Regions from separate parts of the Homo sapiens genome. Here region 2 is linked to region 1. Evidence: fine-mapped expression QTL. A gene starts in region 1. The other region holds a variant in brackets. All regions are shown on one strand. Distances are between the middles of the regions. Region 1 holds the start of RTP4 (receptor transporter protein 4). Region 2 has its middle 20 kb from the start of RTP4.

Region 1 (5,000 bases):
CATGACCTCGGCTAACTGCAACCTCTGCCTCCTGGGTTCAGGCAATTCCCCTGCCCTGGCCTCCCAAGTAGCTGGGATTACAGGCATGCGCCATCATGCCTGGCTGACTTTGTAATTTTTAAAGTAGAGATGGGGTTTCATCATGTTGGTCAGGTGGTCTCAAACTCCTGACCTCAAGTGATCTACCCTCCTTGGCCTCCCGAAGTGCTGAGATCACAGGCGTGAGCCACGGTGCCCAGCCTCAGTTTTCTCGTGTATAAAAATTAAAGGGAAAAGGGATAAGTTGATTTCTAAGGGTTTTCCCAACTCTAACATCCTGTGGATCCAATTACAAGTTCTTAGAGCTTCCTATATCATGTGTATAGACACAGGTATCCAGGAAGGGAAGGAAAGAGAGAGGGTGTCTCTGAGTCGCTGACAGGGCACATGGAAGCCTAGAAAACCCAGGAAGACTGAGGCTGATCCTGTCTCAGACACAGAAGCTGTAGCGGGTGTTCTAAAGACCTAAGTAAGCATCCTGCTTGTCCTATCTCCCCTATTTGAATTTAAGCCCCAGGAGGACAAAGCTTACTCTCTGGAATCTCCGCGTTTTAGACTTACAAGTGTCTTTAAAGGTCATCTCATCTCAATCCCTTACCCCAAAATGGGAATTCTCTGTATCCTACCACTGAAAGACGGCCCCCACACCTGTGCGTATTTGCCCTTCCACATAATTTACAGAGTGGAGGGCAGAGTTTGATAATCCCTTCATGCAGCTGACCTCCTGCCTCAGGACCCAGGAAATCTCCCTACGGTTCCTCTGACACTGGCTCCAGTGTGCCAGCCTGGAACCTGAAATGCCATTCTCAGCTTCTCTTCAGGGAGTGAGGTGGGCGGACACATGGCAGGTTTTGGAGTCACACAGACCCGGGTTCAAGTCTCACTTCCACTGCTCGTTAACTGAGGGGATTTGGACAAAGTACCCCAGCTTTCTGTGCAGTTAACCTGCAAAACTCCAAGAATAATCCTTCGCGGGACTGGTGAGGATACATGGGGTGTAGGAGATGAGCATTAAACACGTGCTCCCCTACGCTGCTCCTAACCTCCCTGTCTCCACCTGGGTGTGAGCATCTGTGGGGGCAGGAATTGTTTCTTAGCTACAGGATACTCTTTTCCCAGTGCCAAAAACAGTGCTTTTGTGTCCGGAATTGGTGGGTTCTTGGTCTCACTGACTTCAAAAATGAAGCCACCGACCCTCATGGTGAGTGTTACAGCTCATAAAGGCACAGTGCCCAGAGTTTGTTCCTTCTGATGTTCGGATGTGTTCTGAGTTTCTTCCTTCTGGTGGGTTTATTGTCTTGCTGGCTCAAGAGTGAAGCTGCAGACCTTCCGGGTGAGTGTTAACAGCTGATAAAGGCAGAGCAGACCCAAACACTGCGCAGCAGCAAGATTCATTGCAAAAACCAAAAGAACAAATCTTCCACCACGTGGAAGGGGACCCGAGCCGGTTGTCAGTGCTGGCTGGGGCAGCCTGCTTTTATTCTCTTATCTGGCCCCACCCACATCCTGCAGATTGGTCCATTTTACAGAGAGCCAATTGGTCTGTTTTACAGAGAGCTGATTGGTCCGTTTTGACAGGGTGCTGATTGGTGCATCCACAAACCCTGAGCTAGACACAGGGTGCTGATTGGTGCATTTACAAACCTTGAGCTAGATACAGAGTGCCCATTGGTGTATTCACAATCCCTTAGCTAGACATAAAGGTTCTCCAAGTCCCCACTAGACTCAGGAGCCCAGCTGGCTTCACCCAGTGGATCCCGCCCCGGGGGCAGCAGGTGGAGCTGCCTGCCAGTCCTGCGTGTGTGCCCGCACTTCTCTGCCCTTGGGCGGTCGATGGGACCAGGCACCATGGAGCAGGGGGTGGCACTCGTCGGGGAGGCTTGGGCCATGCAGGAGCCCAGGGTGGGGAGACTCAGGCATGGCGGGCTGCAGGTCCCGAGCCCTGCCCCACAGAGAGGCAGCTAAGGCCCAGCGAGAAATCGAGCTCAGTGCCGGTGGGCCGGCACTGCTGGGGGACCTGGCGCACCCTCCGCAGCTGCTGGCCCAGGTGCTAAGCACTTCACTGCCCAGGGCTGGGGGCCTGCCGGCCGCTCCGAGTGCAGGGCCCGCCAAGCCCACGCCCACCCAGAACTCTAGCTGGCCTGCAAGCCCTGCATGCAGCCCCGGTTCCTGCCCGTGCCTCTCCCTCCACATCTCCCAGCAGGCTGAGGGAGCCGGTTCTGGCTTTGGCCTACCCAGGAAGGGGCTCCCACAGTGCAGTGGCTGGCTGAAGGGCTCCTCCAGCGCGGCCAGAGTGGGCACCGAGGCCGAGGAGGCTCCGAGAGCGAGCGAGGGCTGCGAGGGCTACCAGCATGCTGTCACCTCTCACTTTGCCTATTATAAAAAATGAGAGAGAGAAAATAAAAGCGAATTTATATGTGACCCCAGAATCTAGAACAGAGCTCTTTATCTCTCTCTCAGCAAGGCCTATTAACTAACACAGTTTTGCTGCTGTCTGTTTTCAGAACAAAGACTTGTTCTGTGTACTCAGACAGTCTAAAATGAAGGTTGAAAAAAACAGCTCATGTCCATACACAGAAACAGAAACTGAACCGAACACCGAAACTGAAACTGTTTGTCTCTTCCTGAGAAACGAGCAAACCTGAAAGCTACTCTCTCAGCTTCAGAGGGAAAAAATGGTTGTAGATTTCTGGACTTGGGAGCAGACATTTCAAGAACTAATCCAAGAGGCAAAACCCCGGGCCACATGGACGCTGAAGTTGGATGGCAACCTTCAGCTAGACTGCCTGGCTCAAGGGTGGAAGCAATACCAACAGAGAGCATTTGGCTGGTGAGTGTGGGTTTCCCAGGCAATAGCTCTTCTGAGAAGAGAGGCTCAGGCTCAGCTTAGCATGATTTATTCCTCTGAGAGCTTGTTGAAGGAGTAAATGTCACCAGGGCCTCCATCCTATTGTGGTCATAGTACTCTTTAGGGTCGACATGATAAGACGACTCCAAACCTCCATTTTGTTTAACTGCTGGAAGTTTCTTCTTTTACTAGGTTTCCCTCCGTAAATATTTCTGGAAAACCCTGGAGAAGGCTCCCTATTCCATAAATTTTCCCTTCTAGTTTCTCACCACGTCATTTGTTCCAGACTACCTCTAGAGTCTTTTGCAGTCTCCCCAGCAGTCCTGACCAGCTTCCCCCAGCTGCACCAGCTCTCCAAGCCTTGGCACTGTTCAGTACAAGCCTGGGACGGAGCCTTTTTTTTTTTTTTAAATATCTTAAGAATTGGCTAAGATCAAGCAGTTACTCTGAACATTGCTTTACTGAAGGCCTGGGGATAATAGTATAGAATGATGTTGCAAAAACTAAATCTAAAACCCAGTTCATGGAGTCACCAAGTAATACTCCTCCCTTACTCACCACTTCCCTCTTTAACCCCCAGCAAGCCTCCAGGTTGCAGGAACCAGTTTCCTTGACCATGTTAGGAGGGTGAGAATTGCTGACCTGGATAATCAAATTTATTTTTAAATGACACACAGGACCTTCGGTATAGTTTTCATCTGACCTATTACTCAGCTTGCCTGCCTGCCCCATCCTGCCTCAGGTATGGCCTACTCCATTCCTTATGGACTATTAGCTATGCCATGCATCTTCAGACTTCCACACTCTTGTTCATGGAGTTCTGCTTGTTCAGCAGACCCTCCCCTCACCCCTCCCTGCTCATCCTTCAAGGCCCACTCTAGTGCCTCCTCCTCCTAAAAGCATTCTCTGGTTCTCCTAGGCAGAGTAAGTATTCCTTCGTATACATTCCCATAAGATAATGGGATAAGATAAAATATATATGTATATGTATACATAAATGATATATAATTATATATACATATGTACTATGTATTTCAGAATAATAAATTTATAAATAATATATGTATTATTATATATTGTATCAAATACAGTATATGCTTATTTTTAGCTGCAGAATCTGTTGTTTAAATAAAGCCTCCTAAACGTCTCCAGAACAGTTCTCAAGTCACTTGTCAGAGCCCGTATAGCAGTCATGTTGCTCTGCTTTCTAATCCAGGGAAATGTGTAAATATTTCTGTCCACACCAGCCAGAGCTTTTTGAGGGACTCATGATGTCTTACAACGTTTTGGCACTCCTCCAAACAGAAAGAAGGTGTTTCTCCTGTTGGGATGATTTGATTTGATTGTCATTTCGAGATCGGAAAAGCAACCTACCAGTGTACTTTTGGAAAATATCAATCAGCTTTTGAAAAGCATTTTGTAGTTTACAAAGTGTTTTCACATACATCGTCTCTTTTGATGCTGCCAATATAACCCTTGAATTTTTTTTTTATGGATTCAAACAATGAGGGTTATAGAAGGGAAGGGCTTTGCCCAAGGTCTTCCTGATGTAAACTGGATCTTCAACCCAGGTATGAGGGATGCAGTCTGTTTCTCCAGGTGTGAGAGATTAGCTACACTACTCACCAGAGGCAACGTGTTACAGCAGGTAAATGAGTTGAATTTCAGATGGCCTGAGATTAGCAGCATGCCTCTAACATTTACCCTGTGTGTCCTTAAGCAGGTTGCGTATCCTTTTCATGATTCAGTTTCCTTATCTGGATATTGGGTTTAATAGTGCTTACTTCACAGATGAAATGGGATAAAATTATAAAGACCAATTATATTGTATGCATCAAAATAGATACTTTACCAAAGCTTTCTATGACCAAAATTAGGAATAAGTTTCTCTGGAAGATGGCAGACATGATTTTCCCTCAGAGGCATCTGGAGATGTTTTACTAGCAAAGAGGTAGACTTGGGTGTAACATATGGGTGGATACTCAGTAGGTCACAGGAAAAAGCCTTATCTGAAACATAGTCCTTCTTGTTCCTGTTTATCAATGACTGGGACAATCTAAATCACATGCATTTTTTCAAATGGAAAAGGATGTTAGTGACAGGGGCCAAGACC
Region 2 (5,532 bases), 20 kb before region 1:
GAGCAGTAGAGAAAGGGTATTTTTTTTATCTAAGTAAAAGATACTAAGCTTGATCCCTATCTCACAACACGTGCAAAAACTAATTTCAAGAGATTTGAGACCTAAGTGTGACAGACTTAACAAAAAAATACATATTTTTATAAGATAAAATAGAAGAATTTCTATTTCCAGTAAATATTTATTTATTTATTTATTTGTTTGTTTGTTTGTTTGTTTATTTTTTTTTTCTTGAGGCAGAGTTTCACTCTTGTTTCCTAGGCTGGAGTGCAATGGTGAGATCTCAGCTTACCGCCACCTTCGCCTCCCGGGTTCAAGCAATTCTCCTGCCTCAGCATCCCGAGTAGTTGGGATTACAGGCATGTGCCACCACACCTGGCTAATTTTGTATTTTTAGTAGAGACAGAGTTTCTCCATGTTGGTCAGGCTGGTCTCGAACTCCTGATCTCTGGTGATCCACCCGCCTCGGCCTCCCAAAGTGCTGGGATTACAGGTGTGTGAGCCAGAGGGCCCGGCCTATAAAGTTAATTTAAAAAGACACGAAAAACACACATTTCTTTTCCATAAAAGAATGAGAAGTTTGAGTATATTAAAATGAAGAAATTTTGTTAATCAAAAGATATTATTGAGGGTGAAAAAACAAGCCATAGAGTGGGAGAAGATTTTTACAACAAGGGATTCGTATGAAGAAAATATAATTCAAAAAACAAATAAATAAGAAAATGGCTGACAACCCAAGAGTTACCAAGAATTTTGAACAGACATTGCACAAAAGAGAAAACTTAATGGGAAATTAACATGTGAAAAAGCACCGCTTTCATTAGTAATCTCAGGGATGCACAATTAGAACCACTGGAACGTATCACTATATAGTCACCAGAATCATTATCGTCAAAAAGACTAATCATGTATCACTGAGAATGTGAGCCAACAGAAACTCATACATGTCTGTGGGACTTATAAATAGATACAATCCCTTTGTACAATATTTGGCAAATCCCAAATTTGATGATACACAGTATGTGTATCATACAATACAATCTACTTATTGTTGTGTAATCAATGTAAATGTATGCACAAGAAATTTGTTTAAGAATATTCATGGCAGCACTATATGAAATAGCCCCAAAGTGGAAATAACCCAAATGGCAGACAATAGTGGAAGAGAAAAATAAATTAACATATATTTAAACCATGGAATAGTATAAAGCATCATCAACAACCCAAAAAGCTATAGCTCCCCAAAAGGCAAGTAAATCTTTAAAAGATAATACTGAGCAAAAGAAGTAAAACAACAAATTTATACTAAATAATTTTTATAGTGTAAATTTAATAAAGGCAAATCTAAACCTTGAAGTAAGGAATACACACTTTGGTGGATGATATATGAAGAAGAGAAAGGAGACAATTCCTATAAAAGTCACGAGAGTGGTTAATACTTGAGGGTAAGATTGAAAAGAACTGTTGGCTTTTAGAGTTCCATCATATTCTACATTCTGTTACTGGGCCTGGGTAGTGAACAGATGAGTCTTCTTTAAGTCACACATTTACGTTTTATGCATCTTTTTCTGTATGCTATATTTTGTAATCAAATATTTTATAACCAAACAAACCATAAAACCCAAATGTTTTCTTTCTATGGCTGGTTTATTTCACTTAGCATAATGTTCTCCATGTTCATCTATATTGTTGCAAATGACATATTTTTCTTGTTTTTTTTTTTTTTTTTTTTTTTTTCTGAGATGGAGGGAGTCTCACTCTGTCGCCCAGGCTGGAGTGCAGTGGCGCGATGTCAGCTCACTGCAACCTCCACCTCCTGGGTTTAAGCAATTCTCTGCATCAGCCTCCTGAGTATCTGGGATTACAGGTGGGTGACACCCTGCCCGGCTAATGTTTGTATTTTTAGTAGAGATGGGGTTTCACCATCTTGGCCAGGCTGGTCTTGAACTCCTGACTTTGTGATCCACCCGCCTTGGCCTCCCAAAGTGCTGGCATAACAGGCATGAGCCACCGTGCCCAGCCACAAAGGACAGGTTTTTCTAAGGCCAAATAGTATTCAGTGGATAGAGGTACAACAGTTTGTTTATCTTTTCATCCACTGATGGACACTTAGGGTGATTTCACATCTGACTATTGTGAATAATGCTGCAATGAACATGAGTGTGGAGTTATGTCTTTGACATACTGATTTCATTTCCTTTGGATATATAGCCAGTAGTGGGATCATATGTAGTTCTATTTTGAGAAACACCTCCACTGTTTTCCATAATGATTATAGTAATTTATATTCCCACTAACAGTGTACAAGTATTCCCTTTTCTCCACATCTCACCAACACTTGTTATCTTTTGTCTTTTTGATATAAACCATTTAAACAAGTGTGAGGTAATATCTTATTGTAGTTTTAATTTGCATTTTCCTGATGATTAGTGATGTTGAACATTTTTTTTCATATACCTGTTGGCTATTTGAATGTCTTCTTTTGAGAAATATCTATTTATGTCCTTTGTTCATTTTTAAATTGGGTTTCTTTCGTCCTATTGAATTGTTTGAGTTCTTTATATATTCTGGCTATTAACCTCTTATCAGTTACATAGTTTGGAAATATTTCCCCCCATTCTAGAGTTGGTCT[C/G]TTTACTCTGTTGTTTCCTTTGGTATGTGTAAGCTTTTTAGTTTGATGCAATTTCATTTGTCCACTTTTGCTTTTGTTGCCTGTGCTTTTAGAGTCACATCCAAAAGATTTTTGCTGAAGCCGATGACAAGCAGCTTTTATCCTACTTTTTTTCTAGAAGTTTTATAGTTTTAGGGCTGATATTTAAGTCCTTACTCCATTTTCAGTTGACTTTTATATATAGGATAAAATAAGGGTCCAAATTCATTTTTCTGCATGTGGATATTCAGTTTTCCCAACACTGTTTATTGAAGAGACTATTTCCCAATTGTGTGTGGAATCTAAAAAAAGTTGAACCCATAGAAGCAGAGAATAGAATGGCGATTACTAGAGGCTGGGGCAGCAGGAGTGGGGTGGTGAAGGGGAGATGTTGGTCAAAGGGTGCCAAGTTTCAATTAGATGGAAGGTGTCAATTCTGGAGATCAGTTGTACAGCCTAGTGACTATATTTAATAATAATGTACTGTATACTTGAAAATTGTGAAGTTCTCACCATAAAAAATAAGCATGTCACATGATGGATATGTTCATTAGCTTGATTTAATCACTCCACAATGTACACGTATATAAAAAAATCACATTTTGCCTCATAAAAGCATATAATAAAATAAATAGGCTGGGCGTGGAGGCTCATGCCTGTAATCCTAGCACTTTGGGAGGCCAAGGTGGGCGGTTCACGAGGTCAAGAGATCGCCATCCTGGCCAACATGGTGAAACACCATTTCTACTAAAAATAACAAAAATTAGCTGGGCATGGTGGCACGTGCCTGCAGTCCCAGCTACTTGGGAGGCTGAGGCAGGAGGATCATTTGAACCTGGGAGGCGGAGGTTGCAGCGAGCTGAGATCACGCCACTGCACTGCAGCCTGGTGACAGAGCGAGACTCCGTCTAGAAACAACAACAACAAAAACAAACATAAATGAATAAACACACATGTAAAAACATTTCAAAAATAAATTTTGAGGCCAGGAGTAAAAATGGAAAAAGATAATATTTTCTATTTGATTTAAAACATCAAGACCATATTTGTCATAAACTTATATGCACTTTAAACAATGTATTGCTAGATATAGAAAGCACAGTTCTTAGATATAAGAATAAAATTTGACTCACTAGAATTAAATAATTTTTATTCATTCCAATTTTTCTGTACAAAAAAGAGTTTTTAAACACCTTGTCTTTAAATTTAATTGACCAAATAGACCAAAAATAGAATATTAATGAGTTTAGTCACATAATTAATAGGATGAATTTACTAGATAATCTAGCATATGGTACCTTATAAAGAATGTATATTATATGCCCATAGAAGCAGGAAAAAAAATGTGTACTGCATTCTAGGACTATCACACAATCAAGCTAGATCCACATAAATGCTAGATCAAAACTGAGACCTACTGAAAAAAACAAAAACTAAACAAGTAAAATCTCAAATTTCTTTAAAAAATTGTAAATCAAATCAAAACTATATTCTGAGATATAAAAATCAACAAAAATAAGAACAGTATACAGCAAAAGTATGGGCTGGTACTAAGCATAAGCACTATTCATACATTTAAATTCAAAAGGCCCAAAATAACAACCAGGCCTTCAATTCAATACAGAAAAGTTAACAAAATAAGCCATATAGATGCATATATAAAATTATACAATTAATTAAATAAAAGCATAAATTAATGACTCTGAATGCTAAAAATGAAAAAATACAATTAATGGATAAAAGGGGCGATTCTTCAAAAAGATAAATAAAATACGCAGGTCCAGCCTGGTGCAGTGGCTCACGTCTGTAATCCCAGCACTTTGGGAGGCCGAGGCGGGCAGATTACCTGAGATCAGGAGTTCAAGACCAGCCTGGCCAACATGGTGAAACTCTGTCTCTACTAAAAAAACAAAAATTAGCAGGGCGTGGTGGCACACACCTGTAATCCCAGCTACTCGGGAGGCTGAGGCAGGAGAATTGCTTGAGCCTGGGAGACGGAGGTTGCAGTGAACTGAGATCATGCCACTGCACTCTAGCCCGGCTGACACAGCAAGACTCTGTCTCAAAAAAAAAAAAAAAAAAAAAAAAAAAAGGCAAGTCCTTTGGAATTTGGGCCTTGAATGAAGGGAGAAAATAAAAATATAAAGCATTAGAAATGAGGAAAGTATAACTAGATGAAAATCTAAACAAAATACAGAATTCTTTAGGAAAATTAGAAAACCAAAACTGACTCCAGACAAGGCTCTCCACCCCTCCCCACCCTGTGTATGTGGGTGTAGGGGTGGCAGTGGGAGAGGCTGTGGTTCTCCAGAACCTTCCAGTTGCCTGGAAAGTTCTGTTAGGAGGATCCCACTTTGTCCGCAGAGCTCATGTCCTTCAGGCCATCTTTGCAGGTAATAAAGGGTGTATGGTATTTTAATTTCCCCCAGGTCAGTGTCTATCTTTCAATGTGTTGTAAATAAAGGTGGAAGGAGGTATGCGTTATTTGCTTTCCAACATGTTCCAAGAATGCAAACAATATGAAAATCTGCCTACATCTTTTTATGGGGCTAGCATTGATATGTCTGATGCTAAAACTTGATGAGAGCACAAAACATAAACATATAGAAAATTCTAATTTATAAGTGGTAAATGAAATCATGTCAAAGTGACTTAAGAAAAAAAGGGAGCTGATTTGTTCATATTACCAAAAGATATGGCAGAATGTTCTTCGGCATGCTGGAAACAAGTACTTAAAGCTTCCCTTTGTACTGGTTTCATTCTCAAGCACATTTTCACCTGGCTGTGGCAAGCTGTCTAGGTACAAGCTGACATTCTATTAGCTTGGTACTCCAGCAGAAGGAGAGCATCTCTCTGTTGGCAACTCCAGCACAAGTCCCCATAGT

The links. PIP is the estimated chance that this variant, and not a neighbour inherited with it, causes the effect. A credible set is the group of variants that fine-mapping cannot tell apart.
Region 2: its variant is the best candidate, but not a certain one, in a credible set for the expression of RTP4 in substantia nigra (GTEx, PIP 0.72).

The regions. Positions count from the first base shown.
Region 1 is chr3:187,365,728-187,370,727 of GRCh38, forward strand. It overlaps RTP4 (receptor transporter protein 4), which reads left to right and starts at 2,658. Exons shown (of 2, transcript NM_022147.3): 1 at 2,658-2,869. The coding sequence starts at 2,715. RefSeq lists an enhancer at 2,519-2,868.
Region 2 is chr3:187,345,740-187,351,271 of GRCh38, forward strand. No RefSeq gene overlaps it. Among named protein-coding and RNA genes, the nearest start is that of RTP4, 20 kb to the right of the region's middle. The variant C/G (reference allele first, on the strand shown) is at 2,630.